4 linked regions of the Homo sapiens genome follow. The protein of the gene in region 3 interacts with the protein of the main gene of each other region in a pairwise test. Each region holds a gene or a part of one and is shown on either strand. Other genes may lie near its edges. The genes, in order: LMNB2, FCHSD2, MFAP1 and ZNF134.

Region 1 (7,500 bases), on a different chromosome or scaffold from region 3:
AAGGTCAGGAGATCGAGACCATCCTGGCTAACACAGTGAAACCCCGTCTCTACTAAAAAAACATACAAAAAATTAGCCAGGCGTGGTGGTGGGCGCCTGTGGTCCCAGCTACTTGGGAGGCTGAGGCAGGAGAATGGCATGAACCCGGGAGGTGGAACTTGCAGTGAGCCGAGATCGCACCACTGCCCTCCAGCCTGGGAGACAGAGCGAGACTCAGTTTCAAAATAAATAAATAAATAAATAAAATGAAAAATAAAAATAAATAAAAAAATAAAAGCAATGCGGTCCCTCCACCATCCACACACAGGAACATGACCCAGCTGTGTAACGGAGCAAGGTTCTGACACCACAGTGTGGATGCCCCTTGAGGATGTCACACTCATGAGACGCCAGACACAAAACGCCACACAGTGTGTAATCCCATTTCCATGAAATGTCCAGGTCAGGCCAGTGCACAGACACAGGCAGCGGGTGTGTGGGCAGCGGGGCTGGAGAAGGGGACGGGGAGTGACCGCTGAGGGGGACAGGCTTCTTTTAGTGGGGATGAACGTTCTAAAATTGGACACATTGGTGGTGGCACAGCTGTGGAGATATGAAAACGCGAAACCTACGGGTGAGCTGGGTGAACCTTATGAGGCGGGAATTAACTGCTCCGGCTCTGGCGCTGAGGAAAAGGAGGACCGGAGGATGGTAGGCGGAACCAGGCCCAGCACCACCCGCTAGAACGCCGTGATGTTCCCACAGCCCTACAGGGCCAAGGGTGTCTATGCAAGGTGGGTACAGGGTCGGCCTGCATCTGGAGGGCCACACCCCCATGTTACAGGCGAGGCTCCTGTGCAGAGGGCTGGGGGCCTGCCAGGACGCACCCCTTGGCAGTGACCGGGCCTCTTCTGAGGTGGGACCCTCAGCCTCAAACCAACGCATGCTGGGCCATCTGGACAAGTCAGAGTCTCAGGCTGCCCCAGCACCGCAGCTCCAAGTCCCGTCAGCCTACAGTGGGGCGGGATAAGGGTTCCCAACCTGATTTTATGTATGGGAAAACTGAGGCACGGGTCAGTAAAAAGCCGCCTCCTGACCACCGCTGGGTCCTAGACATATCAGGTCTGCGGGGACCAATTGTAGGACGGGGACCCACAGAGGCAGCAGTGCAAAGCGAGCTCCTCCCGCGGCACCCCGGCCACCCCCAAGCCCTCCCTCCCATGCAGGCGATCATCTGGGCCGTGCCCTCCACATCTGTGTCCTGGGAACAGACTTCTAGAAAAACCCAAATCAGGAAAAAGCGGCCAGCTCCACGCTGCAAACAGCTGGGCACCAGGTGCAGGCATGGTGGTGTCTGCCTCTCCCTCAAAGCTCCCAAATACCCCTAACCTCAAGGGAGGGGCTGACGGGACACCCTCAGGATGGGGGTCACACACGAGCTCTCCTGTCCCCACAGAGAGAGAGCTGACTGCGGCTCACGAGGCAGAGGGGCCAGGATGAACAAAACAGCAGAGTTTCCAACAAAGACAAGATCAGCGCCGGGACACACAGGAGCCCGTTCAAGGTGAGAAAAAACAGCAACTCTGCAATGGCAGCCACACGCACAGAGGCATGCTGAGCACCCCCAGACCATGTGCACGGCGGTCCTGTAAGACTCTAATGCAAACCTGGCATGGGGGCTCACCCCTGTCATCCCAGCACTTTGGGAGGCTGAGGTGGGCGGATTACGAGGTTAGGAGATCAAGACCATCCTTGTTAACACGGTGAAACCCTGTCTCTACTAAAAATACAAAAAAATTAGCCGGGCATGGTGGCGTGCACCTGTAATACCAGCTACTCAGGAGGCTGAGGCAGGAAAATTGCTTGAACCCAGGAGGCAGGGGTTGCTGTGAGCCAAGATTGGGCCATTGCACTCCAGCCTGGCGACAGCCAGACTCCACTTCAAAAAATAAAAAGAAAAAGAATCTAATACCATATTCTTACTGCACCTTTCTTGTGTTTATTTACTTATTTTGAGACAGAGCCACACCCAGCCTGGAGAGCAATGCCGCAATCACAGCTCACTGCAGCCTCAAACTCTGGGCTCAAGCAATCCTCCTGTCTCAGCTGCCCCAATAGCTGGGACTATAGGCACACATACTACTATGCCTGCCTAATTAGTTTCTAACTTTTTTTTTAAGAGATGGGGTCTTGCTATGTTGCCCAGGCTGGTCTCAAACTCCTGGACTCAAGCAATCTGCCTGCCCCAGCCTCCCAAAGTACTGGGATTATAGGCGGGAGCCACCGCACCCAGCCCTTTCTCGTGTTTAAATGCTCACATACTTACCATTGTGTAACCGGTGCCCACAGCATTCCACAGAGGAGCGGGCGGTGTGGGTCTGTGGCCTAGGAGGCCACGCCCAAGCCTGGGTGTGTGGTGGCTTCCACCATCCGGGAGTGTGGGAGTGCACTCTACCATGCCCACACAAGGGGCACGTCTCCTAACGACACGCTTTCCACAAGGTATCCCTGTCACTAAACGACACCTGACTTGAATTAATAGTTTGTTCATTGTAGATTTTTTGAATTAATTGATTTTTAAAAGATAATCCATTAGGGCCCGGTGCGCTGGTGCATGCCTGAAATCCCAGCACTTTGGGAGGCTGAGGCGGGCGAATTACTTGAGGTCAGCAGTTCGAGACCAGCCTGGCCAACATGGTGAAACCCTGTCTCTATTAAAACACAAATTAGCTGGGTGTGGTGGTAGGCGCCTGTAATCCCAGCTACTCGGGAGGCTGAGACAGGAGAATCACTTGAACCCGGGAGGCAGAGGTTGCAGTGAGCTGAGATCACGCCACTACGCTGCAGCCTGGGTGGTACAGAGAGACCCTGTCTCAAAAAAAATATACATATGTCTGGGCGCCGTGGCTCACGCCTGTCATCCCAGCACTTCGGGAGGCCAAGGCAGTTGGATCACCTGAGGTCAGGAGTTCGAGACCAGCCTGACCAACATGGAGAAACCCTGTCTCTACTAAAAATACAGAATTAGCCGGGCATGGTGGTGTATGCCTGTAATCCCAGCTACCCAGGAGGCTGAGGCAGGAGAATCGCTTGAACCAGGGAGGCGGAGGTTGTGGTGAGCCAAGATCACGCCACTGCACTCCAGCCTGGGCAACAGAGTGAAACTCCGTCTCAAAAAAAAGAAAATAAAATACATATACATATACATATATATATACACATATATATATATATTCCATTAAAACATTACTCATCCCATCGCCCCAGCGTGACGATGAGCAAAACAACACACAAACCCCCATTGAGGAACATCCTACTGCACACCTGCCCAGCCCGCTCAGGACCAACCAGAACCTCTAACCAGGAACGTGGGGGAAACTATCAGCCTGGAGGAGCCTGGGAGACAGTGACGTAGTCACTAAATGTCACGTGAGATAGTGGATGGGGTCTTGGGGCAGGAAAGGACATCGGGGAAACTGAGGAAGTCTGAATACATGATGGATGTTGCTGGGAGCAGTGGCTCACAGCTGCAGTCCTACAACTTTGGGAGGCTGAGGCAGGAGGATCAGCCTGCCTCAGCCTTCCAAAGTGCTGGGATTACAGGCATGAGCCACCGCACCTGGCATAAGATGATGGGAGGCTGAGGCGGGCAGATCACCTGAGGTCAGGAATTTAAGACCAGTCTGGTCAACATGGTGAAACCCCATCTCTACTAAAAACACAAAAATTGCACCATTGCATTCCAGCCTGGGCGAGCACAGGGCAAGACTCTGTTGCCCAGGCTGGAGTGCAGTGGCATGATCTGAGCTCACAGCAACCTCTGCTTCCCGGGTTCAAGCGATTCTCCTGCCTCCCAAGTAACTGGGACTATAGCCGTGCACCACCACGCCCAGCTAATTTTTGTATTTTTAGTAGAGACGGGGCTTCACCATGTTGGCCAGGCTGGTTTCAATCTCCTGACCTCGTGATCCGCCCACCTCGGCCTCCCAAAGTGCTGGGATTATAGGTGTGAGCCACTGCGCCCAGACGGTTTTTACATTTTTAAATGGCTAGGGGTAGCCAGGAGAGGTGGCTCATGCCTATAATCCCAGCACTTTGGGAGGCAGAGGCTGGCAGATCCCCTGAGGTCAGGAGTTCGAGACCAGCCTGACCAGCATGGTGAAACCCCATCTCTGCTAAAAATACAAAAATTAGCTGGGCGTGGCAGTGCAAACCTGTGATCCCAGCTACTGGGGAGGCTGAGGCACAAGAATCGCTTCATCGCCTGAATCCGGGAGGCAGAGGTTGAAGTGAGCGGAGATTGTGCCACTGCATTCCAGCCTGGAAAACGAGACTGTCTCAAAAACAAAAACGATAAAGGCCAGGGGGGAAGATGAAGAGACTTTGTGACACAGGCAGATTCTATGCACTTCACAGTTCCATGTGTATAAATAAAGTTTTATTGACACATAGCAGCACCCACTTATTCACCTATGGGCTAAGGCAGCTTTCATCCTATGGCAGAGCTGAGTGGTTCAGATGCAGACAGTCTGGCCTTTTTTAGAAAAAGTCTGCTGACCATGCCTGGTCTGCCGTGCTGTGATGATGAGGAAAGTTCTAGAGGCTGGGGCACCTCACAAAGACCCTTTGAGCCTGCGGAACGGGTGTGCCGGGGCAGGACGGCCTCCTTGTGCTTGTGAGGCGCTGCAAAGGGCTGGGGACAGGCTGGGCCTTTTCTTTCATCTTTCACGGCATCTAGCAAGTGCTAGGCTTGAGGGAAGTCAACAAGTGTGTCCACACATGTGGGCCTGGCAGGGCTCAGATAGCCTGAGATGGCCTTTGCCTGGGACCCCTCGGACACACAGAGCAGCATAACTCGGCTGGAGGAGGCCACGGTGGGACAAAATGGCCCGGCTAAGAACTACAGCCCTGTGCAGAAAATGCAAACACCGGCTTGGGGTCACTTCCAAAGTGGACTCCATCCTCCACGCTCGCCTGGGCCGCCTCCGAGACCCCCTCCAGCAGCCCTGAGCAGCCAGGGGACACCGGGGCAGGGGAAGACAGAAGATGCCGAAGCCAGGTCTCCTCCCTCGGGAACGTAAGGCCTGGCAGGGAAGTACCTGGAGTACCTGCCTCTCCCGCGCCTGGACACGGGCCACAGCGCGGCCTCCCTGCACCTGCCCCCGCCCCCAGCACTCAGTGATCCTCCTTCAACAAATACCCATCTGGCCAGCCCCCACCCCACCCTTTCCCAAGCCCTCCAACGATGCTTGTATATGGCGATTCATCCACACCGCCAAAAGACACCCCCTAGTGTCACATGGGAATGTGGAACCCATGCTTGGCCTGGTTTTGTACGAGTGTGCAAGGGTGAACTCCTGCGGGCAGGAAAGAAGTGAGCAAGTTAGCCGGGCATGGTGGTGGGCGCCTGTAATCCCAGCTACTCAGAAGGCTGAGGCACGAGAAGCCCTTGAACCCAGGAGGTAGAGGTTGCAGTGAGCCAAGATCACGCCACTGCACACCAGCCTGGGCGACAGAGAGAGACTCTGTCTAGAAAAAAAAAAAGGCCAGGCATACTGGCTCACACCTGCAATCCCAGCATTTTGGAAAGCTGAGGCGGGCAGATCACAAGGTCAAGAGATAGAGACCATCCTGGCCAACATGGTGAAATCCCATCTCTACTAAAAATACAAAAATTAGCCGGGTGTGGTGGTACACGCCTGTAATCCCAGCTACTTAGGAGGGTGAGGCAGGAGAATTGCTTGAACCTGGGAGGCAGAGGTTGCAGTCAGCCGAGATCACACCACTGCACTCCAGCCTGGGCGACAGAGTGAGACTCTATCTCAAAAAAGAAGTGAGAAAGGCGTGTGTGAGGACCTCGGGGGCCGCCACACACCAGGATGCTGTGAGTCGTGTTATGAGCCTGAAAAAATCTGAACTGAGTCCCTCACGCCTCCCAGCAGGCTCCTCGGCCTGGCCATTCTCATGGGGGCCGTGTTACCCTCATGGAGGCTGCGTCATCCTCGTGGGGGATGGGTCATCCTCATGGGGGCTGCGTCATCCTCATGGGGGCTGGGTCATCCTAATGGGGGATGGGTCATCCTAATGGGGGCTGGGTCATCCTAATGGGGGCTGGGTCATCCTCGTGGGGGCTGGGTCATCCTCGTGGGGGCTGGGTCATCCTCATGGGGCTGGGTCATCCTCGTGAGGGCTGCGTCATCCTCGTGGGGGCCAGGTGATTCTCTTCTCGGGGCGCTGAGCAGTACCCAGCCTCCACCCACGCTGTGCCGATGCCGTCTCCCTCCCAATGTGACAACCAAGGGCATGCCCAGCCTTGGCCAAGAGTCCCCTGGGGGCAGAAGCTGGCCAGGTGAGAGAGGCCCTGCTGTCCAGGTGACCTGCATGCTCTTAGGCCTGACACCCCAGGTCCCTCCTCGTTCAGAGCTCCCTCCCCTGCCCCCATCCTGCCAGCCTGAGCCTGAGGCTGCTCTCTGAACCCCACGTGGCCCACCTGTGTCTAGAAGGCCCCCAGCTATTCCAGGTCACTCCCTCCATGTGGGCCCACATGACGTCCCCCCACCAGCGGCCCCCACCCCAGCAGGCTTCCAACTCTGCTCCCCACTAGCCGGGTTCCTGGCCCACTAGTCGCAGGCGGAACTCCCAGCTGTCCCCTGCCACATGCCCTGCAGACACGGCTGGGTGACAGGGCTCACGGAGGGGCCAGTGTGTCACCTGCTAAATGGCTGCCTTCACTGGAGTCAGACCCGCATTTCACCCAGCCTGAGTGAACTGAGTTGTAAAGGATGCTGCTGCGGCCCCGAGAGGTGGCTGGGCCAGGCTCCCTCTAGGGCACAGGGCCGGTCCAATGGGGCGTCCAGTGGGGCTGGGGCTGGTACCTCCCCAGCACTCACCAGGCCCTGCACCCTCAAAGCTCCCTGCAGCTGTTCGTCCCATTGGCAGGTGGGATAACAGAGGCCCAAAGACAAGAAACCAGCTCTAACCCTGCACGCCACGGGTCCAGCAGGCGGCCTCTAAGTTGGGACAACTCCGCACTGGACAGATGGCAAGATGGAGGCTCCAAGAGACACAGGGGCCTGCCCAAAGCCACACTAATTGAAAAGCAGGGGACTGGCCAGGCACGGCGGCTCACACCTGTAATCCCAGTACTTTGGGAGGCCGAGGCAGGCAGATCACCTGAGGCCAGGAGTTTGAGACCAGCCTGACCAACAAGGCCAAACTCTGTCTCTACTAAAAATACAAAAATGAGCCGGGCATGGTGGTGAACACCTGTAATCCCAGCTACTCGGGAGACGGGGGCAGGAGAATCACTTGAACCCGGGAGGCAGAGGGTGCGGGGAGCTAAGATCGCGCCACTGCACTCCAGCCTGGACGACGGAGCGAGACTCTATCTCAAAAAAAAAAAAAAAAAAAAAGAAAGAAAAGCAGGGGATCCCACCAAGCACTGATCTTCCTTCTACCTCCCTGAAGGCACCAGCTACATTCTTTCAGGTTCCCTGTCCCCAGGGCACTGTGAAAACAACC
Region 2 (8,313 bases), on a different chromosome or scaffold from region 3:
ACACGAAGTTAGTGTACCACCAGAAAACTAGGTAACTGATGAGGCTTACAGACCCAATTCCAATTTGATAAATGTATTATACAAGGGAAATAAGAATTGCAGCCACTCTTGCTTCACCATGCAAATCATCTTCCATTCTTGACGAAAATCTTTGTTGAACTGTCAGTCTGTATTACAAGATTGTTAAATAAGTGGTATTTCTTTCATTAAAATAAGTCATCCATCCCTCTAGTAAGAAAGATACTGATTTTCACAATATTAGCAAGATGTCTTAGCTATTCAAAGTTAACTTGATTATGAATATGAGTAACCTCAATAATAAAATAAAATATGATAAACACACTTCTCACTAAATTTGGCACTCAAAAACAAAGTTGTATTTGTCATGTTCTAACCCAGTGAGAGCATATAACCATCTGGGGTTGACTGGCTCACCCCCAGATATTAACCATTAACCACAAGTGTTGGTTTAAAAATCTAACTGTGTAAAACCGTTAAGGTCAATAAAATGATTGTTACAATTCCGTGGAAAGATTATTTAAACAAGAATCTTTAATTATTATAATTTGACTAGTAAGACTTTTAAGGTCCTTGTTTTTTCTGAATACTATGTGTGCATTATAGGTCCCCCACTGAAGGAAAAAGTTTGTATTGTGTTAGTTCCAGTTCTAATTTCCAGCTGAGTCAAAGTTCTAACAGCCTTAAAGCAGGAAATCCAAAAGGAAATTCCATCATCAGTTCCTGGGGCTTGGTAACTCAAAGGTTCTTTGAAACAGACAAACAGAAGTCCTTGAACTATTTACTATAGCCTTACCTCATATCTTCAAGCAAATCACATTCTGCTTGATGTTTGGCTTGAAGTTTTGTCATCTGCTCAACTTGAATGTTTTTCAGTTCTTGTGTAACTTTCACCTAAAATATACCATATATTTATGAAGGTCTTTTTACAAATTTAACCCAAAAAAATTGCTTCAGGAAAATACATCTGTCAGAATATGTCTCTTGCTCGCCTCTCCCCTGAAGGCCATAAATCCAATATTCGCCATCTAGTTTTATTTATTGAAGATACTTATTTAATGAAAAATTAAAGCCAAATAGCCTGAACAGAGGTTAAATGAAAATACACGACTATAAATATTACAAACTAAAGACGTGCAAAATAAACTGCCAGTCATTCCATTTCATGCACAAGCTCAATCCACGTCTAGGTCTTCCTACAGTTTTAAAAGAGCCTGTCTTCTATTTCTAAAAAAGATTCAAAGACATTAACCACCAGGAGAGGTGAGCAGAGTGTGGATGGGGGCTGGGAGCCTAAGAGTGCCTGATACCCAATGACCAATATTTACACAATCATGATAATATGCCTGAATCGACTACATAAATTACTCCATAATGGCTGCGAAAAAGCACACTGTCTCAGAATGATGCCCTCGACTTGCTGACAGCGCATCAAATCACAATCTCTTTCTCACAAAGGAGAAAGCAAAAGTGACCTTCCAGCATATGCAGTGCTTTTAAACTACCCCGGGAAGCCGATCCCCGTGGAGGCTCCACTTCAAACAGCGGAGAACAGCAAATGCCTGCTGGCCAGAGAGCCTCGCCCGCCAGGCCGGGGCCCCAGGGTTCGAAGTTAACGGTCAGTCTGGAATCTCGGCCTCAGCAGTGGGACCACCCGGAGGGGTGGGGGTACATGTTCGAAAGAAAAGGACTCACTTAAATGGAGAAACCCGGATTAGGAAAGAGAGAAAGCAGCGGCAGCAGACACGGGTGAGTTAGGCGTTAGGCAAATGTTTGCCCACGAGGGGAGGACAGAACGGCCTCATCCACCCAGTGCCCAGAGTAGACATTCAGTATCCATCTGTAGGATTAAAAAGACAAGGACACAGCCTCGGCCCCTGGGAAAGCTGGGGAAGGGCGCAGCGGGGAGACTGATGACAAGCCGGGTGCATCCGTCACTCCCACCCTGGTCATCCAACCCCGGATCGCAGTGCACACCCCACGCACCTCCCGGGCCCGGTCCTCGCTTTTCTGAAGACAGCACGACAGCCTCCTCGCCCCTCAGCCGGGGACGAGGCAGGACCCGTCAATCCTTAATTTGTTTTCCCTTGGGGTGGGGAGGCGGTGACTATTCCAACTTCTTTTCGGCCGCCCCGTGGGAAAAGCAGGCCAAACCCTAAGGCTAGGCTAGAAACAAATCCCCCGCAAATTTGCAAACGGGCGGGGCTGGCGACAAGCGGCTGGAGGGCTCAAAGCTGGTGCAGACTAAACAATCACACACGCACAAGGCTCTGCAAAGCTGCAGGGGCGTCCCCGCCTCCCCCTCGGTGCAGCCCCGAGAATGCACTTTGCAGCGGGCAGCATTGCCATGCGCGCGCACACACACAAATGCACACCCGAAACTCTTGTGAAATGTCTGGGGGTCTCCTGCGTTAGAGGACGGACGAGCCCCGGCGGCCCCTCTGTCGGAAAGGCAACTCACACGCGCGCCCCCCACCTGGAGCCGGCGGCAAGTCGGTGACAAGCCCAAGACGAGGGCGGTCACGGCCCCTTGCGGGAGGGGGAAGGGGCGCAGCGGTCGCCCCAGCCGCGTTCCGCGTACGCATCTCTCCGAACCCCAAAGCCCCCCAGCTGCGCCCTTACCTTCCTCGGCGGCGGCTGCATGATGCTGAAGGGACATCAATCCTCCCCGACGGCAGCGTTAGCAAGGACCAGGAGGAGGAGGAGGGCCGGAGAGGAGGGGACGGCCCAGCGAGCGCGCGCGTGTGTGAAAGGAGCGCTTAAGAAGCAAGACTTGCCCCGGAGGGAGCAGGCCAGCGGGCGGCAGGCGGACCCCAGCCAGAGAGCGAGTGTGAGGAGACGAGGGAGGAGCACCGGGAAGGCTTGGGGCCCGGGCGGCCCGGGCGGCCCGGGGGTGTGTGAGGAAGGAGGCGGAGACGGCGAGGGGGCGGGGGCCCCAGGAGCAGGGGCGCGAGGGTCTCAGCCGGCCGGGCGGCGGGTTAGCCGCAGCCGCGTTGTCCGCGCTCCCGGTCGGCCGCCTGCGCCGCCGCTCCCGGCGGACGCAGCGGCCCCCACCCCACCCACTCAGGCGGCCCGGCCCTCGCTGGGCCTAACGCCCCCGCCCGCCCGGGAGGAGGAAGGTGGCGCCGCTCTCCCCGCTAGGGCTCCACCACTCAGGCCGCGGGAATTTCCGGCCTCGCCGCGCGGCGCAGCGCCCCGCTCCGGATGCTGAGGGAACCGCTCTGTCCAGAGCGGGGTTCGAGGGGCCGGTCCGGGCTGCCAGGAGGGAGCTAGGCCACGGCACGGGGCTTCGTACCGCGGCAGGGGAAGGGGGAAGCTAACGGATTGGTCGGTGGGTGGGAGGTGTAGAAACGCCAGCGCCACGCGAAAATCCCCCCTTTCTCTCCGAGAGTGGCACGTTCCAGACGCCTCCTGCCCTCCCTCCCCCACGCTGGGAGCCAGCCGGGGGCTTCCCGCGCGCTTTCCCGCCAGCTCGCCCCGGCGCGCGCGTCTCCGCTCGGGGGCGCGCACGTGGGCGGGAGAGGGCTCCGCGCCGACGCACGCGCACAGGCCGCCCCCGCCTCCTGCCTGCCTTTGCGTGTGTGTGTGTGTGTGTGTGTGTGTGTGTGTGTGTGTGTGTGTGTGTGTGTGTGTGTGTCGGGGGGCGCGGGGGACGACGCTCGCAGGGAAACGTTTGCAGTGGGGAGGGGGGCGCAGCATGCCTGTGGGATACGAGAATTCCGGCGTTTTCTTCCTCTCAGCCCCTCAACACCCTACTCTCCCTACCAGCTAGATGTGCGCGAGAGAGGCGAGCAAGGACAAGTCGCTTTGCGGCTGGCCGCAGGTGCCAGGCCATTGCGATTGTAGGGCGGAAAGGCAGTTGCTCTGCAAAGGAAACGGCGGCACTCTACTGCAGGGCATTCAAGTCAAACATCACTGACTCCGCTGAGAGGGAGCCAAGAGAACGTTAAGGCCGAGGCCCCCGTTTCACAGACGGGGAGGCAAGTGCCCATAGAGGGAAGCCTTTCTAAAGGTTACACAGCAGGACTAGAATCTGCGTCAGGAAGTGTTCTATGGGTTATTTTAAAAAAGAAACAGGTGCAGGATAATAAGCACGAGGAAAAGTAGAAGAGGCAGGAGAGGCCATAGAGGAAGCCCTTGTCTGGGAGTCAGGATCTCTGGGTGCCAGTCCACTTTGCCTGCTCCTTAACAGGCTAGGTGAGCTCGGCTTCCTTATCTGCCAGTGAGGGTGCTTATCTAAGCAGTGCACCCCACCACCACACATGAACCTTCCTGCTCTGTTCAGACCATCTACGGGGGAGTTTATCGACCTCCCTTGGGGTCCTCAGAAGAGGAATACCTCTTCCCCATGCCCAGGGAGGTTTTTTTTTTTTTTTTGAGTCACGGGGCTGTGTGGAGGCTGAGCTGGATTACTCCACCGTTTTTTCAGAAGTTGAGATCCCAGACAGCTGTTCTCAGAAGTGCAGTCAGGCCTAAGAGGAAGGTGAATGAGGCCTGGATAGACGAGTAACTTCCCAGATGACCACATGACCAGAAATTGAAAAGGTGGAACTTCAACCCAGGTTGTTTACATTGAGTTAGACTAGATTCTTGTACAGAAAAGTGACAGAGCTGTGTTTTGAATAAGATTAATCTAGAGCTGTGTATGAACTAGGAGACTAGTCTTGCTTTTTCTGGCTTCAAAAGTTAGCCCTTCACCAGAATCCTTAATCAAATCAGGGAAGGCCTGGGGCAAGGGGACAGGTGGATGGAGGCCCAGGGCCCTGACAGCTGCGGGGTGGCAGCTAGAGCCCAGGCCATAGGTAGCGTAGGCTGGGCTCCAGTCTCAGCTCCACCACCAATTTATTGTGAAGCGTTGAGCTAGTCAATTCACTTATTTCAGCCTTGTTTCCTCACTTGTAAAATGGAGGTATAATGCTAGCCTCATAGGCTTACTGTATTAAATAGAATTTCTCCTACCACAGGGCCTGGCATGTAGTGCTTAATAAGTGCTTATTGAGGCCAGGCGCGGTGGCTCACGCCTGTAATCCCAGCACTTTGGGAGGCCGAGGTGGCCAGATCACAAGGTCAAGAGATCGAGGCCATCCTGGCTAACACGGTGAAACCCCGTCTCTACTAAAAATACAAAAAATTAGCCAGACGTGATGGCGGGTGCCTGTAGTCCCAGCTACTCAGGAGGCTGAGGCAGGAGAATAGCGTGAACCCGGGAGGTGGAGCTTGCAGTGAGCAGAGATGGCACCACTGCACTCCAGCCTGGGGGACAGAACGAAACTCCGTCTCAAAAAAAAATAAAAAATAAAAAATAAAATAAGTGCTTATTGATTCATCATTCATTCAAAAAATACTTGCTAAAGTCCTGCTTTGTTCCAAGCCTGTGCCAGGCACTGGGGTTCTAGAGATGAGCAAGATAGAATCAGCCTTCGCCAAGACTGAGTTCCAGACCAACCATTCCTTGAATGACACTGGGCTAGTGGAAGAGGAGTAACACAGTACTTGGCCCGGATGCAGTGTCATGCACATAACAAGTGCTTAACAAAGATTTGCTGAATCCTAGTCTTGGGTGCAACTGGTCTGGCCCAGAGATTATCCTCCCTTCACCTCTCTTCTTAGGAAGTGAGCACTGGGGTATAATGGTGCTGGATGTTGGGAGACATGGGATCCAGCCTCTACCATGGATCTAGTGGGTCTTCTCTGGGCCTTGGTGCTGGCCTGCAGAATAAGATAAGTGAGTGAGCCTAGAACTTAGGAGGCTCTTCACAGAAGAAGTCAGACCCTGGGGATTTCGTTTATGCATATAGGAGGGCATCCTCTACCTGATTTGCCACCGTTCTGAAGCCAGGAGTGGCACTGACTTTCTGGAATGATTTCCTTTGGAAGTGTTATAAAGAGCTAAGGGCAATACCAGATGGGCTTACCTACTAACTCCTATTTCAAAACTGTGATTTAAAAAAATTGTTTTAATACTTACCAAGTGTCTCTTCCAAACCCTAAACTTTCATATTACTTTTCCAAGCTAATCTTTACCCATGAGATAGTATTCGTTTCTTCATTTTTACTGATGGAGAACTGGAGGCTCAGTGGGGATAAGTGACTTGCCCTGACATGATAGACTTCAGACCATAACCCAGTTGTCCGATGAGGAATGTTCGTGTATGAAGAATGTTCAAAGGAATTGGGAGAGTTCCTAACGCAGGAAAATAAGCAGACCCAGGAGGATACAATCCATTATGTTCCAGACTCTAGGGGACCAGGGAAGGGATTTCTGTGACTTATGTAAGCCTGACTTGAAATGTACCATTTTGAACAGGGTTGGGGACTTCCAGAGCCTTGCTCCTGCAATGCAGGCAAGCGCTGTGTTGCCAGTAGCATTGCTTGAGATTCTTTGGGGAAATGGTGCAGAGCAGCAGGCACTATGGCCCCAGAGACAAAACTGGGACAGGTGTTAGCTGCATCTCAGGAAGGAACTTTTCCAGGCAGAGCTACCCCTGGAAGGAGTGAGCTCCCTGTCCCTGGGGCTGTGCAAACAGGTTCTGGCTCCCTTCCATCAAGGAGACCACAGATGGGATCTCACTCTGAAAAGAAATTAATAACAGCTGCCATTTATTTTGCCTCTTCCATGTTCCAGACATTAAAATAGGCGTGTTATTTACATTGTTTCCAACATTCACAACAACTCCTCATAATACATATAACCCCATTGCACAGGCTGCAGCTCAGAAGTGAAATGACCTACCCAAGGTCACACAGCTAGTGAAGGAAAGGGAGGGCTGGCCCCTGGCTCTGAAGCTGTGCTCTCCCTCCAGCATGCTGCAGTGCAGTCTCCCATTTCATTAGGAATATGATTCTAAGGTTAAGTCAGAGCTAGGATCAAAAACTGGCCTGGAGCAGGTATATGAATGGGTATCAGAAGATCAGCTGTTCTGATATTCCAGGGCTCCTGGGAAAACTGGCAGGGAGACAAAGTATACAGCGGCCCTTTAGCATGGCCAGAACATGAGTAGCACACTACTCCCCATCCAGAGCACGCACCTAGGACAGTTTGACTTCGTCAAAGGCTCTCTTCAGAGAAAGTAGCTGCCAGTCCCCCTGCCCACACTGCACCAAAGCATCCCTGACCGTTCCTGCAGTTGGGGTCCATCAGCTCTCTCTACTCTGTCTTCCTCTGTGTCATTATCCCCCACCTGCATTGACACAGACTGCTCAGGAATACTTGTTAGCACGTCTGGATGCCAGCTATTCCCTGCCTGGGCCCCACCAAGTCCAGCTGGGGATGCTGCGGCAGACAGTGTGGTCTATGGACCCCATCCCCATTCATCTCCTTCCTACCCCTAGTCACCTTTCCCTACCCATGCCTTTGCTCCCTGAGCTAATTCCCTCAACACCAGCCTCCTGCCAGCCTGATGTGAGAGTGTGCCAGTCTCTTCCACTATCAGCTCTCAGGACAGAATCCCAGCACAGGTAAATGAGACTTCAAGATTGGTGGCCACCAGAAGAGAGCAGGGGCTCTCCTTAAGACACATAGTGAGTTTGTTCAAGGCACTAGGCCTTGAATTCCATAGTATCACTCAACAAGCCCTTATCCTGGGCTTAGTCATAAGCAGGTCTCTGAGGTGAGGAGCTGCCCACCAGGAGCTCCCAATCTCAATACAGAGACCAAGGTCACAGCAGTGAAACATGCAGGGCCAGGAGGGTCATAGGGACCCAGATCCTACCAGGTGGTAGCAGAGATCTAAGGCCAGAGGCAAGTCCCTAAGAAGCAGGCACTGGGACCAGGAATTATCTTGTCAAGTGTTGCCCCTACCAGGGAATATTACAACTTTGGGTGGCAGGGGTGGGGGTGTACGGTAAATGAGCAGTCAGTCCCAGGGCTATGGTAGGAGCTGATAGGCACATGGTTTTAACATTACAAGGCAGGAAACCACGGTGCTAATTCTATCTCTGCCAGGTACTCACTGAGTGTGACCTCTAGCGCATCACTGTCCTCTCAACCTTGGTTTCTACATCTATAAAATAGGAATAATAAATTCCATCCTGTCTTCCTCTTGGAGGGCTGTGCAGGTTAAATGAAATAACAGGTAAATGGTCTGCAAGGGCTGAGGAGCCACATAAACAAGTAACTGCTGATCCTAGGACACATCAGGGAAGGTTGAGTGACCACCTGTATTGAACGCTGATCAGCACCTTCCGCCATGAGCTGCACTGTGATTAGGCACCAATGAGTAAAATACTTTTGGTGGAGGGATGAGGTTACAGGGGTCTGAGGTCAAGCAAACCTGGGTTAGATGTCTATTTCTC
Region 3 (7,500 bases):
TCACCATGTTAGCCAGGATGGTCTCAATCTCCTGACCTCATGATCCGCCTGCCTTGGCCTCCCAAAGTGCTGGGATTACAGGCGTGAGCCACCGCGCCCGGCCCAAAATTATACATCTTAAATGCTTAAATGTTACAACCTTTACGTCAACCCTTTCAATCTTCTACCAAATATAACATCTCTCTCGTCAGAACCCCTACAGTACTTTACTTTTACTTATGTTATAGTGATTATGTATTCTCGCTAACAGTGCTAAACAGTGACCTTTGCATAGTATATGCACTAAAGCTTACTTACTCAATGAAATAAACAACATTAGTAAGGCTGGATGCAGTTGCTCTTGCCTGTAATCCCAGCACTTTGGGAGGCCAAGGTGGAAGGAGAGTTTGAGCCCAGGAGTTTGAGACCAGCCTGGGCTACATAGCAAAACCCATCTCTACAAAATAGAAATTAGGTGTGGTGGCACACACCTGTAGTCCCAATTACTCAGGAGGCTGAGGCAGGAGGACTGCTTGAGCCCAGGAGAATGAGGCAGCAGTGAGCCATGACTGCACCACTGCACTCTAGCCTGAGTGATAATATTACAATGCTGTGATACATATTTATAAACACATATGCTGAAGGAATTAAAAATAGCACTATCTTGTTTAAGAAAGACTTTTTAAAAACAATTTATTTTGAGACAAAGTCTTGGTCAGCCACCCAGGCTGCAGTGCAGTGGCACGATCACGGCTGACTGCAGCCTCAACCTCTCGGGCTGAAGCAATCCTTCCACCTCAGCCCCTTGATAGGTGACACTACAGGCACGGACCACCACGCCTAATTTTTGTATTTTTTGTAGAGATGGGGTTTTGCCATGTTGCCCGGGCTGAACTCCTGGGCTCAACTGATCTGCTGGCCTTGCCTCCCAAAATGTTAAGATTACAGGCATTAGCCAATGTACCTGGCCCACCAAAGGACTTTCACATACACTTTTCTTATGTATCTTAACTAGCAATGAACTGCTTCTCTAAGAAACTTGATTATTAAAGCTGCGAACTGCTTAAGCAAACAAACTTTATGACCGAAGCAGTACAAGAAGTAGTTCATAATCTCCACTGAATAGTAAGCTACATCTGCTGGAAAACTACCTAAGTAAACACTTCCTGCTAATCAGATAGACCTGAAACTGATTTTGGAGGGTGGCAGGGAAGCCGCCACTGAAGTTTTAACAGCATCTGCAGTGAAAGGCAGGAATTTAGTTGCAGTGGGGATATTTAGAATTTGCCACACGGCACTTGAAAAAGCTAGTCTAGTTTTTGGTGCAAACTGCTTTAACATTAGGAAATAAACCATACAGGGTTAACAGATTGCTATTTTGATCTTAGTCTTTATATGAAAAACAAAGATGACGGCATTCCATCTAATGGTTAGATAATAAACCATTTTTTTTGGTTAGTTACTCTTGGGTACTGTCAGTTCAGAATGAAGTGAACTAACTTTCTGCCACCCAAAAGTGAATTAATGTAAAGCTATTTGCAGAGTTTGGTTTTCACATAACCAAAACTTCTCATTCAGCTATGAAAGAATGACAACTATGTCATGTGGAGGACCTAATTAGTCCACTATCTGTACAGATCACTTCTCTATTTCATTTCCTCAATTTATCTAAGGCTGGGGATGATGGCTCATGCCTGTATTCCTAATACTTTGGGAGGCTGAGGTGGGAGGATTGCTTGAGGCCAGAAGGTCAACACCAGCCTGGGCAACATAGTGAAACCTGGTCTTTACGAAAAATTAAAAAAAAAATAACCAAAAAAAAAAAAAAAGCCAGGCATGGTTGTTGCATGCCTGTAGTCCCAGCTACTCTGGAGGCTGAAGCAGGTGTAAAGCGCAGGACGTCAAGGTTGCAGTGAACTATAATCGCACCACCGTACCCCAGCCTGGGTGACAGCGAGACTCTGTCTCTTAAAAAAAAAAAAAAAGTCTATTACATCATTTCCTATTTTTGAGAGTTGGGGCCAAAAGAGAGAACAGTTGATGCTACTTCTGTCATCCAATTGCTGATGCTTTTCTCTGAGTTTATATTGTTCAGAAGGAAAAAGCAAATGAGAAAGCTGACCACTGGCAAGTGGAAATTACATTCCAGAATATTCTTGAAGAGAAAAATAATTCAAAGTTTCTGAGTTATTCCTACTGCCCAATTTTCTGACTCTCTTTTCACTTCTTACCATGAAGAAGGCACCCCGGTGATAATACTTCTGTAAGAACTTGTATTTGCCCTTAACAGCTTTGTTGGTAATGACTTTGCCGTTTGCCCGAAGTTCAGCTCTCCTCTCTTCCTCAGTCAGGTTTCGCATGCGTTCAATTTCTGCTTTCTCCTTCTCAAGCCTGTCCAGGGAGCAAAACAATTTATTGGTACTGTTACAGCTTCAGAAAGACCAAATTATCTGAAAATAACAGTCCCATGTCATTTCAAGTATTAGTCACCTTCTTTAATTCTAGTCATTGCCTATTAGGAATCAAGATAAGGAGCTCAATAAACAAATGGGTGAGTTAGTCTTCATTATGTTTGCTAGACTAGGTATTGCCAACTTTCAAAAGTTGATTCTAGCCCTTCTGACGTTCAGACATACTATTACTGCTGGGTTTTCCAACATTACAAATTCTCTTTCCCTAAAAGGTCTTCTTAGCTTTAAAAAAAAAAAAAAATCAGTGAATTTAAAATAAGTGTCTGAGGCTTTGCTGGTATTCCTTTATGTAAGTGTATCATAATCATATAGGTGCTTGCATGTCATAAACCAAAGATTACCATCATTAATTAGATTGCAGTAACTTTTTTTTTTTTTTTTCTTTTTGGTGAGATGGAGTCTTGCTCTGTCGCCCAGGCTGGAGTGCAGTGGTGTGATCTTGGCTCACTGCAAGCTCCGCCTCCTGGGTTCATGCCATTCTCCTGCCTCAGCCTCCCGATTAGCTGGGACTACAGGTGCCCGCCACCATGCCCAGCTAATCTTTTTGAATTTTTAGTAGAGACGGGGTTTCACCGTGTTAGCCAGGATGGTCTCAATCTCCTGACCTCGTGATCCGCCCGCCTTGGCCTTCCAAAGTGTTGGGATTATAGGCGTGAGCCACTGCGCCCAGCCAGATTGCAGTAACTTTTTAGCCAGTGTTGGGGAGAGGGAGTGATATCCCTTGTCTCCAAATAAAATGCATACATACACACAATTTTGTGTACAATTTTATATTTTTTTGAGATGGAATCTTGCTCTGTTGCCCAGGCTGGAGTGCAGTGGCATGATCTTGGCTCACTGCAACCTCTGCCTCCCAGGTTCAAGCTATTCTCCTGCTTCAGCCTCCTGAGTAGCTGGGATTACAGGTGTGTGCCACCATGCCCGACTAATTTTTGTATTTTTAGTACAGACAGGGTTTCACCATGTTGGACAGGCGGGTGTCAAACTCCTGACCTTGTGAGCCGCCCACCTCGGCCTCCCAAATTGTTGGGATTACAGGCGTGAGCCACCACGCCCGGCCTTGTGTACAATTTTAAAGGGCACTTAGACTCCTACTCCTACAGGTCCAGGATAAAAATCTTAGAAACTACAGGCTGAGGGCCAGGCGTGGTGGCTCATGCCTGTAATCCCAGCACTTTGGGAGGCCGAGGTGGGTGGATCACCTGAAGTCAGGAGTTCAAGGCCAGCCTGGCCGACATGGTGAAAACCCACCTCTACTAAAAATACAAAAATTAGCTGGGCGTGGTGGCATATACCTGTAGTCCCAGCTACGCAGGAGGCTGAGGCAGGAGAACCGCTTGACTCCCAGGGGGTGGAGGTTGTAGTGAGCCAAGATTGCGCCACTGCACTCCAGCCTGGGCGACAGAGTGAGACTGTGTCTCAAAAAAAAAAAAAAAACCAAAAACAAAAAATTACAGGCTGAGTATGGAGTTATCTACTGTGTGTAGCTCATACTCAGGCAAGTTTTCTTTTTTTCTTTTTTTTTTTTTTCCAGATAGAGTCTCACTCTGTCACCTAGGCTGGAGTGCAGTGGCACGATCTCAGCTCACCGCAACCTCTGCCTGCCGGGTTCAAGCGATTCTCTTGCCTCCGCCTCCCGAGTAGCTGGGAATAACAGGCACACACCACCACACCCAGCTAATTTTTGTATTTTAGTAGAGATAGGTTTTCACCATGTTGGCCAAGCTGGTCTTGAACTCTCAGCCTGAAGTGATTCGCCTGCCTCAGCCACCCAAAGTGCTGGGATTATGGGTGTGAGCCATCACGCCCAGCCTAGAGTTATCTATTGATGGTTTCCTTTGTAATCTGGGATTACCCTCTCATACCTAGTAATTTACAGGAATGAGTGATGCAGCTCAGAAATGATTCTGCTGGGGCCGGGCATGATGGCTCATGCCATAATCCCAGCACTTTGGGAGGCCGAGTTGGGTGGACAACCTGAGATCATGAGTTCGAGACCAGCCTGACCAACATGGTGAAACCCTGTCTGTACTAAAAATACGAAAATTAGCCAGGCATGGTGGCGCATGCCTGTAATCCCAGCTACTTGGGAGGCTGAGGCAGGAAAATCACTTGAACCTGGCAGGCGGAGGCTGCAGTGAGCTGAGATTGTGACACTTCACTGCAGCCTGGGTGAAAAGTGAAACTTCATGTCAAAAAAAAAAAAAAAAGATTCTGCTCTAACACAGTGTAGATTATTTAAGTGCCACAAATTCTTCCCCTCACAGTATGTATGCCCCTTTTCAAAAAGTATGACTTTGCTGCTCCTCCTCTGCAGAGGTGGAGTCTGTTTCTCCACCTGCTTAAAGCTAGGTTGGCCTTGTGACTTGCTTTGACCAGTATGTGGCAAGATCGATGTATGAGTTCTGGAACCGACATGTCAGAAGACCTTGCCCTCTTAGAATGGTGCCCTGAGACTGCTATGTAAGGAAGCCAGTCTAATCCAGTGAAGGATAAGTGAGGTATCCTAACTGATAGCCACCACCTACTACTAACATGTGAGTGAAGCCCTTTTAAGTTTCCAGCCCAGTCAACCTTCCAGCTGGATGCAACTACATAAGTAAGCCCAGGTGAAATCAGTAGAGGAACTGTTCAGCCAACCTCCAAAGTTGTGAAAAGTAATAAATTATAGTTTCAAGTCACTCAATTGTGGGTTGGGTTGTACACAAGAAGAGATAACTACTAACAGTTACTAATTTTTGTGTCTACTAGGAAACTAAAGGGAGCACTGGCTGGCACTCTATTATGGACACACATCGACAAAGTGTTTTTCTCTTCCCTGATTTCACTGTAGCAAGTGAAACTCATATTCCAATTATAGGAAACTCACAAAGCAACAAGAACTCTGAAGGTGGCTAGAATGGAACTCACAGTAGGTAATGAGTCTCAGAGCTATCCTGCTAGAAACCTGTTCCATTAGCAGCATTAACTCTAGGCTCATCTTTTTACTCACGCTTCTCGATCTTCTCTGTCCCTCTTGATTCTTTTTAGCTCTCGAACTTTCCATGCCTCATATTCCTCCTCATCATTTTCATCATCAGTATTGAGTGCATCCAATGCAGCCAGGGATCGCTTGTTCTCTTCCAGCTCTTTTTTGGTTTCCTCTTCGACAATCTGGATAGGGAGAACAATTCAGCTTGGACTTCCTTACTCTCCTCAGACAAACCTGATTACACTATTTCTTGTACTCATTCCTTGCAACCACTCCCCAGTACCTTGAGTGTGTACTTGCGCCTTTCCTCAGCCATGCGTTTTGCTTCCTGCTCCAGCTCCTTCTGTTTCAATGCTTCGGCTTCACGTTCTTGAACTGTCACTCGGTCCTTCCTGCATCACAGAGATCCTGTTAATTGCCCAAAGTCCTTAGAGTGGAGTGCTTTGTTCCCCTAGACCTAGTCCCATCCAAATCAGACAAAAACCAAACAATCTTTGGCTCTATTATTTTCAAAGAGCAAAAAACGCTGAGTCATCCCAGGTCTTTTTTTTTTTTTTTTTTTTTGAGACGGAGTCTCACTTGTCGCCTAGGCTGCAGTGCAGTGGTGTGATCTTGGCTCACTGCAACCTCCGCCTCCTGGGTTCAAGCAATTCTCTGCCTCAGCCTCCTGAGTAGCTGGGATTACAAGAGTCTGCCACCACACCTGATTAATTTCTTTGTATTTTTAGTAGAGATGGGGTTTCACCATCTTGGCTAGGCTGGTCTTGAACTCCTGACCTCCTGATCCACCTACCTCAGCCTCCCAAAGTGCTGGGATTACAGTCGTGAGCCACCGTGCCCAGCCATCATCCCAGGTCTTTAGAGGACTAAAATCATGTTCATCTTTGAGAACTGCCTAGACAGCAAAGAACCTGCTGGCCTCTAAGCAGTAGGATTTCTAGCCATCAGGAAAGGAATAGGAATTTGCTCGTTGAGTTTAATTTTGTGCTTAAAAATATATGGCCTTGGCTTGGTGCCGTGGCTCATGCCTGTAATCCTAGCACTTTGGGAGGCTGAGGAGGACGGATCACCTGAGGTTGGGAGTTCGAGACCAGCCTGACCAACATGGAAAAACCCCCTCTCTACTAAAAATACAAAATTAGCCAGGCGTGGTGGCGCATGCCTGTAATCCCAGCTACTCGGGAGACAGAGGCAGAACTGCTTGAAACCAGGAGGTGGAGGTTGTGGTGAGCCGAGATCATGCCATTGCACTCCAGCCTGGGCAACAAGAGCGAAACTCTGTCTCAAACAAACAAAAAAAGGCCTTGGACAGATATATGCTCTATTACTGAAAAAAGAGATGTGAAAACAAACTCAGGTTCTCTGCTAACGCCAAGATATTCCTCAGCAGCTAGTCTGCCAAGGGTAGAGCACTAGCAAAAGCACTTTCACTCAGCGTTTAGATTTCAGAATAGCAAGACAGAAAACAGACTTTTGTCTCCAGGCCTGGAAAGTGGTAATTAAGTGGATTCAGATCTGGCTTGTGAGATACTTACTTTCGAATGAAGACTGGCTTAAGGCGAGGCTCCATCTCATCTTCACTGTCTGTGTACTCTTCATACTCAGACTCTGATTCTGACTCCTCTCCAGAACGACCCTCATCTTCCACTTCCATGACTTCCATCTCTTCATTTTTTCTCTCCTGTGCTCGCTGACGCATCATGCCACGCCGCCGCTCTATTTCCTATCAAGTCATATATATAAGCCAGTCAGTCAAATGGCCTATGGCTTTTTGTTCGTCTCATCAAACACAACAAATTCAAATGTAAAAAGATACAACTTAGTATCATTCTATTTTTAATCCTATCCCCACAAACAAGGAACATGATCAGAGTCCTGCCAAAGCAGTGATCTCATGTTTTTAAGGCTTCAACAAATGAGCACTGGCATGAACTTTTTCTTATATCCAGAAAAAAACTTCCCATGTTCCTTTATCATACCTCATCATCAATTTCCTCCTCCTCTTCTTCACTGCTGTCTTCTCGTTCCATGCGCCAAGCATCTCCTTCTACTTCTGAGTCACTCTCTCCTACCACTTCA
Region 4 (7,988 bases), on a different chromosome or scaffold from region 3:
TTGCATTAAGCTCCTCAGTGGTATTCCTTCCTTCATCCTCACTCCCACAGTCTTTTTTCACTGTACAGAGGAAGTTGGTTAAGACCAAAGTCAGATCACTCCCTCCTAGCTCCAAACCTGCAGTGGCTCCCAATTCTCTCAGCATACAAACCCAGATCCTCAGGCTGCCATTTCTGGGCTGAATCCTGTCCCTGCTGTCTGATCCCACCAGACATAATGGAGGCCTGAGGTTCCCTGAACACTCCTAGTTTAGCCTTAAGTTAAGTATTTGCACATGCTGGTTCCTATGCCTGAGATAATGTTCCACATTTCATCCCATTGCTTGCCAGAAATAGAAACCCTTCCACATAATTCCAAAACAGAATTTACAACACAGAGCTTTGGGTGACTGCAGGACCTCCAAGAACGGTAGGCAGAAGGGACACTGAAGAGTCCCAGAACACTATCATTCTCCACACTGAGTTGCTGAGATAATGGGGGTGTGTTGGGCTAAGTGAGGGCCTGAGACAATCTACTCTCATCTAGGTAGGAATCATAAGTTTCTGCCACCATGGCAACCTCACAAGAGGAGGGAAGCTGGGAGTGGCAGGTTCCCACAGTGGGATCTCATCGACTGAACTGTTTCCCTAAGCCCTGCCTACCCTGCCCTTTGGCAGGAATGATTTTGGGTTACCTCTCTAACTTCAGATACTCAGATCTCAGTGCTGGCTCCCACCAGCTGTGTGAACATAAAGACCAGCGTCTGAGTGTCCTCATCTTAAAAGTGGGGATAATAATGGCACCCACCTCATAGGGCTACTGTTTGTATCAGGCTTGTCTGTACATCTCAAGTGCCTTTGAAACAGCTACTACTATCCATGCAAATGAACTGATGAGTTTTTGAAAAATTAGGTTTGTTTTGCCTGCTTTAAAGCTTTTAAGAAAATTTGGTTAAGATTTTTCCATTGTAATAAAATACTTCAAGGCAACTTAATATTTTGACCAATCATTAAGTGCTAGTATAAATTTCCCTTACTTTGTACATACATTTTTTAGTTCCTTCTGCGTACTTGCAAGGTGTACACTAGCCCTTGCACTAAACCAGCCTACCTGATACATATTCCTCTGAAGGGGAGCTGCAGTGATCCTTCATTAGAGATGTTCATCAATTCTGCTTACCTGAGGGTTTGGGTAACTGAGGCACCAATGCACTGGTTGGGGATGGGACTGCTCCACAGGCAGCGCCCATGAAGGCATGCTGAGCCTGTAGGGTGGCAAACCTACTGCATCCCTCACCTTGGTCTCCAGTGCAGGCCAGGCTACTTATGCTCTACAGCCCTCTCCTCTTGCTGACACTATAAGATATAATAAAATTCCTCTTCAAAGGTTTAGCCTGTTAACTTCCTTGTTCTTTGTTCTCAAACCTTTCTTGTTCTCCATGCCTCCTTGCCCCTAGTTACTATAAACAACCTTCCTGTAAGCACTAACCAATAATTCACATCTGTTCCCTTACTCACTTTGCACCCATTGCCCCCGCCAAAACCACACGTCCTACACAACTCACATGTCCCACCACTGTAACTCACCTTCCCCTTCCCTCTTCCTTATTTGGAAAATACTCACAAATACCCAATTGGCTCAGCTTAGATTAAGCGGTCCGACCCCAGCCCATGGGGGAGTGACACAGAGGAAGGTAGGGACTATGGGTTAGAGATAAAAACCCCTTCCCTCCTTTGTTCAGTGTGCTCTTGGGATCGTGATTAACACAGGCAGCACACTTGCACAGAAGTAAATTGCCTTGCTGAGAAAACTTTTGCCTGAGTGCTGGTTTCACTTTGCAGCACCAAGCATTGACTTCCAACAACACCATCTAGAATGCTTTCACATGCCAGGACCCCTCCTTTCTGGAAGGAATCTTAAGTGTCCACCCCTTCATCCCTGGCCTTCCACCCTAAACCCACCTCTCACTTCAGAGACCACACAAAATAACTTCCTTGAAATTCCACCCTCTAAATCTGATCTACTACAGGCTTTGACCTTATGCCTCACCCATTGAAGTCTCTAGCACAACTCCCTCTCTAGAACCCCAGACCTGCATGTTCAGCTACCCGTGATGAACCTCCAGTGCAGAACACCTTAGATTCACCAAGTCCAAAACCCAATTCCTGATGCCCCTGAAACGTGCTCCCTGCTGTGACTTACCAATTTCCATTCTTTCACACGTTCAGGAAGGAAAACAGGCCAAAAAAACCCTGGATAGCCCTTTCCTCCCTACATTCACTCACGACCACATCTGATGCGGCAGGAAACCCCATTGGTTCCATCTTTAAAAATCTACCCAGAATCTCATGACTTCCCCACCCAACCCCTCCTGCCACTGCTCTGGCCCAGCCACCACCGCAACACTTCTGGAGTTTGTTGCAGGGACCTCCTCAAACGTCTCCTTGCCTCCATCCTCATCGTTTCTACCTCACTGTAGTCGGTTTCCTCCTCAGCAAACATTGGAATACTTTAAAAATCCTTTTTCGGATCCCTTCCCTCCACCATTCAAAACCCGCCATGGCTCCTATCGTCCTCGCAATGAAGGAGCAACTTCTCCCCTCGACATTGCAGGCCTGACTACGGTTCACACACGCTCCCGACTGCTACGGGCTCAGTCCAGCTCCAAACCTATGCTCAGGCTGCCCCTCTGCCAGTCACACTCGCCCCCACCCACCAGCGCCCCGCTGCCTTGGACACTGGGGCCTGCGCTGCAGGGACTCAGACAGGCGCTCCTCATTTGGAACTTCAGGATTTGGGGCGGGCGAAAGTCTGGGAAAGGCAGCACCCACCTGCGCCGGGCCCATCACCGCGGCCGCCGCCATCACAGTTCGTAGACCACCCGGAGCCGCGAGGGGGTCCCAGGTCGCGGGACCCTGGCACCGCGGTCGTCCGTCCCCGGGGGCGCAGGCGGGGTCTTCGCTGGCGAGCCACTCCGCAGAGCGAACAGCGACTTCTCCCGCACCCTCCCGCTTCCGTCACCTCGGAACCGCCCAGCAACCCCGAGCTTCTGCTCCGATGGTTCCACCTAAGAGCCGACAAGATGTCCACCGCGAGGAAGATACCGGAAGTCCCGCCCAGAGAGCTTCCGTCCGCAGGGAGACGCCCCTAAGAGTGCCGCCGCCGGGCGGCGCACAGGTTTCTGGGCAATGCAGTTCTCATGTGCACTTGGCCGTGGTGACGGCTAACTCCCCTGCACGCTGGGCAAAGGCCAAATGGTACTGCGAGGGGCGCTGAGAAATTATGCCCTGAGACTCTGAGGTCAGGGCGTGGCTTCGCTCCTTTTAAAGGACCCTCAACCAGGTCTTGTGTAGTGAGGTCTGCAGGGATCCCCGAAATATTGGGATATATTCTTACAGATGTTCCCTGAAGCCACACCACCAAATGGACACACAACATCCAATGTCACTCTGAGTCCACTCATAGTTCAGTCAAATTTCCTTCATTTAAAAAATATGTGTACTGTAGAGGGAAGCTTTGAGTCAGTTTTGTGAGCCTCAGTTGGGTCAGAGTTAACAGAGAATTGTCCCCAGGCAGGGCCATGGAGTGGAAGAATGGTCTCCAGACAGTGGCTATGGAGGGATGCTGGAGCTCCCTGAGGCAAGTGGACTAATATAGAGCTCTTCCTCTGGTTTCCTCAGAAAAAAAATACCTGAGAGAACCATGAGGAGGAAGACAGGCGAGAGAAGGTGGTCAAGGAAGGCACCTTTCCTGCCTGTATGGTCACTAATGTCCAACCAAAGGAGAAATATTCTTTTATCCAAATGAGAGTTCCTAGCCCAAAAGTTGAGATATATCTATTTCCTTTTGGTGATGTTTCTTATCTGAAAAGAAGAACCATTATAAATGCTTTTATATGCCAAGACAGGGGCTGAAAATGTGGTGTCTGAACCCAGAAATAAAGATTTGGAAAATTGGGATCAGATTTCTTGGCTGGGAGGTGATTCTCATTTCACCTGCAATTACACCGACAGTGTCTGAATTGAGAATTGAGATTTATTTATGGTTTTAAAAAAGAAAAGGGCGAGTGTATGGGGAAAGAAAGACAAAAACATTTGTGAATTGTTTAAATTACTCAAAAGTTGTTTTGTGTTTTTTTTTTTTGAGACGGAGTCTTGCTCAGTCGCCCAGGCTGGAGTGCAGTGGTGCGACCATAGCTCACTGCAGGCTCCGCCTCCCAGGTTCACACTATTCTCCTGCCTCAGCCTCCGGAGTAGCTGGGATTACAGGCGCCTGCCACCATGCCCGGCTAACTTTTTGTATTTTTAGTAGAGATGGGGTTTCACCGTGTTAGCCAGGATGGTCTCGATCTCCTGACCTCGTGATCTGCCCGCCTCAGCCTCCCAAAGTGCTGGGATTACAGGAGAGCCCCCGCGCCCGGCCAAATTACTCAAAGTTAATAATTCTGTAGTTATTCACAGATACATGACGAAATGGACCTGGAGAAACATATCTGTGATAAGTGAAAACGGTTAAGATGACAGCAAAATTTGAGCAGGAGACATTGAATTCTGAGAAGTGAGCAAATGAAGCTGAGCACACAGCTGTGTTAGAACTATGACTACAAGCAGCGTTTAGTCTCCAAAATGTAATTTTATTTATTTATTTAATTTTGGAGACAGGATCTCACTGTGTTGCACAGGCTGGAGTGTAGTGGCACGATCATAGCTTGCTGCAGCCTCAAACTCTTGGGCTCAAGGGATCCTCCCACCTCAGCCTCCCAAAAAGTTGGGATTACAGATGTGAGCCACCATGCCAGGCCTCTTTTCATTCTTGAAAACACTCAATAATACCTGGAAGGAGAAGTAAAGAAAACATTTAGAAAGTGCTATCAGAATATTAAGGTGAACAGGGATGCTGTAGTATTATGCTTATTCATAGTTCTAAGAAATATTCAAGGAACACCTACTGTATTTCAGACACTATCTTAACTGCATGGGACATTTACAAAACAAGAGACAGACCCCAATAGCTTACGCTGTACTCAAGAAAGAGGAGGAAATATGAAAAAAATGCTAAATTATATGGAATGTTAGAATGTGGCAGGCATAATGGAGAAAAGAGAAGGTGAAGGCATTGAGAAGTGCTGGAAAGATATGTAATATTACATAGCCAAGAGAGGCCAATTTGTGGATGGGTCTTTATTGGAAAAGGACATGGAGAGCTCAATGCCAGTGAAATAAAAGTTTAATGTTACTCAGAATTTCCCTAGAAATGGGAAGTACAGTATGCCATGCAGGGCCACAGGAGGAACAGGTTTCAGTCTAAAGGAAGAAGCAAGAGCTAGGGGAAAGCCTAGGCCAGATCAGAGCAAACAGCTGAGTACTGGCTAGTCTGAATAATTCTGGTTGGCTTCGATTTACAGGGGTGGTCTCTAGTTGCCTCATACCCTCACCCTGGTGTTAGAGTAGGTAGATAAGAGTAGGGCAGGAGAGAGGGACCCCAGGAATGTCAGGCAATTTTGGAGTCAAGGACAGGCAATCATAAATCTTTTCCTCTGAGATAATAAACAAAACAAGAGAGGGACCCCCGAGATGTCCAGCTCTCATTGGGTGAAGGACAGGAAAGCATAAAACTATCCCTCTGAGATGATAAGTGGCCATGATTGGTACCAGGAGGGAAAAGAGTTTTCCAACAGATAGAAAACACCTGGAGCCAGTGAACCACAACCCCTGATAAGGTTTCGAGCATGCACAAAATGGGGCAAGATGGCAAAATTTGACTGGTATTTGACCTTCCTCTGGGGGTGCATGACTTGTTAAGGGAAGATCACCCCAAATGAGTATATGTATGACTTCAGTAAACAAACTGCATGCGGCCCCTCCCAAGTACTGGCAGACCACTGTGCATGCAGTAGTCAAGCAACAGCCTACCGAAGGAAGGAGAATAAAGAGCCTGGGAAATAAGCAAATGTATAAAGTCCCAAGCCAAGGATCAAGTGGGGCACTTGACCTCTCAAGTTATCCACTTGGCCCTTTTCCAAGTGTACTTTGATTCCTTTCACTCCTACTCTAAAACATTTTAATAAACTCTCACTCCTGCTAAAAAAAACTTGCCTTGGTCTCTTCCTGTGCCTTAAGCCAACCTCTGCCTCCTCGGTTGAATTTTCTTCTGAGGAGGCAAGGACCAAAATTGCTGCAGACTGCTGCAAAATCACTGGCAGTAACGCTGGGATGATTTAGTGCAGGGAAAGTATTGGCTTGGTGAGTAAGAGTTAGATAAAGAGGGTAGTTGGCTTGCCTTGCTCTCAAGGTAGTTGTTTACTATTTTTAGAAATTAGCTACCTCTGGTAGGGTAAGTCTCTCTGTCACCAGCAAGAATTTTAAGATGTCAAGACATATAATACAAAAAACAGAAACCATGATTAATACATATGCTTCCTTAATGAGAGGGTGGTTGAAAAAAAAGGTTGAGGAATGACAGCCCTGAACAGACCATTTCACAATTATAAACATAAAAATATTCACTTAATATGTGTGTTCTTGGAAATTATAAGATGTGCACAATGAATTTGGGGGCTACTGATTCAGGCAAGGTTTTAAGCTCAGAATTTTGTCCAAAACGGTCACCTTGTTACTTTTCTGGCCTTCAGGGAATATGGCCACTCAGCAGGTCCTGAGGAACAGCTGTTCCTCCCTGTTTCCTGAGGAACAGTGTTGGGGAACATGGGACATATGCTGGAAACAAGACACCCAATCCATGCTGTTTCAAAACACTGCAGGCTGTCAAGTTGTCCAGTTTCCAATAGAAGTGGGAGGCCCAGATTTTTAAATGGAATAACTTTTTATAGGTTCATTGAGGTGTAATCAACATGCAATGTACTGCACATATTAAAACAGTAAGTATACACACACACACACACACACACACACACACACACACATATGTACACTTTTGAAATCATCACCCTATCAATGGTGTTGGACATATCTGTCACCTCCAAAGTTAACCTCAGGCCCTTACCTAAGGGGAAGTTTTATAAATAAAAGCACAAAAAAATACACACTTTATGATGTCTAAAATAAAATTCCAGAAAATTCAAGTCAATCAATTGTAAAGGAATGTTAAAAGTTGCCTGCATATTCTGGAATGTATTATAAAAGAGCAAAAGTAAAATATGCAGGTGAGATATGCTCATTCTTATGATTACAACAATGCTTCCATGGGTTTACATTTATGTCAGAACTTATCAAGTTGTACACTTTAAATATATATAATTTATTCCACATCAATTATAACTTGATTTTTTTTTAATGGATGCAATAACAATCTTGGTCATTGACACTTCAAAAAGTCTGGTTTACTAAGTCTCTATTGACTCTACCATCTAGCTCCCCAGGCCACGTAGAGGCAGACCTGCTTCAGTGGCAGGAAATACAGGTGAGCAATGAAGGCCATTTCCATCAGCGTTAAGAGGATTGCTACTGGATCACAAAAGCCGCACCAAGGACAACCGAATCTCTCTTGACTTCATCCTTTTTTTTTTTTGTCTGTGCAGCAATGGCCTTGAAGTAAACAGGCCAGAGAGGCTACAGGAATCCACAAAACCCTTGTTGTCTCTAGTAATAACTTGAGCTACAAGACACACATTTCTAGAGATTTCTGCACACAGTGATCTTGCAGTCATAGTCACTGGAACATTTGTGGATACTTTTTTTTTGAGACAGAGTTTCGCTGTTGTTGCCCAGGCCGAAGTGCAATGGTGCGATCTCGGCTCACCTCCCAGGTTCAAGAGATTCTTCTGCCTGTCTCCTGAGTAGCTAGGATTACTGGTGCCTGCCACCACACCCAGCTTTTACTTTTACTTTTTACTTTTACAATTTTTGTACTTTTAGTAGAGACAGGGTTTCGCCATGTTGACCAGGCTGGTCTCGAACTCCTGACCTTGGGTTATCCACCCACCTCGGCCTCCTAAAGTGCTGGGATTACAGGCGTGAGCCACCACGCCCAGCCTTTTTTTTTTTGGAAAC

What was found.
Region 1: the proteins of MFAP1 (region 3) and LMNB2 interact in binary tests that used the Homo sapiens proteins (3 or more experiments, as listed by UniProt).
Region 2: the proteins of MFAP1 (region 3) and FCHSD2 interact in binary tests that used the Homo sapiens proteins (3 or more experiments, as listed by UniProt).
Region 4: the proteins of MFAP1 (region 3) and ZNF134 interact in binary tests that used the Homo sapiens proteins (3 or more experiments, as listed by UniProt).

What each region holds. Positions count from the first base shown.
Region 1 is NC_000019.10:2,446,923-2,454,422, forward strand, and holds part of LMNB2 (lamin-B2), read right to left. Parts: intron 1-7,500. UniProt on the Homo sapiens protein: Lamins are intermediate filament proteins that assemble into a filamentous meshwork, and which constitute the major components of the nuclear lamina, a fibrous layer on the nucleoplasmic side of the inner nuclear membrane.
Region 2 is NC_000011.10:73,139,217-73,147,529, forward strand, and holds the start of FCHSD2 (F-BAR and double SH3 domains protein 2), read right to left. Parts: upstream 3,103-8,313; 5' UTR 2,662-3,102; coding exon 2,641-2,661; intron 2,269-2,640; exon of another isoform or gene 2,005-2,268; intron 913-2,004; coding exon 815-912; intron 1-814. UniProt on the Homo sapiens protein: Adapter protein that plays a role in endocytosis via clathrin-coated pits. Contributes to the internalization of cell surface receptors, such as integrin ITGB1 and transferrin receptor.
Region 3 is NC_000015.10:43,807,545-43,815,044, forward strand, and holds part of MFAP1 (microfibrillar-associated protein 1), read right to left. Parts: coding exon 7,401-7,500; intron 7,145-7,400; coding exon 6,957-7,144; intron 5,814-6,956; coding exon 5,705-5,813; intron 5,604-5,704; coding exon 5,443-5,603; intron 2,371-5,442; coding exon 2,211-2,370; intron 1-2,210. UniProt on the Homo sapiens protein: Involved in pre-mRNA splicing as a component of the spliceosome.
Region 4 is NC_000019.10:57,609,326-57,617,313, reverse strand, and holds the start of ZNF134 (zinc finger protein 134), read right to left. Parts: upstream 3,073-7,988; 5' UTR 2,811-3,072; intron 1-2,810. UniProt on the Homo sapiens protein: May be involved in transcriptional regulation.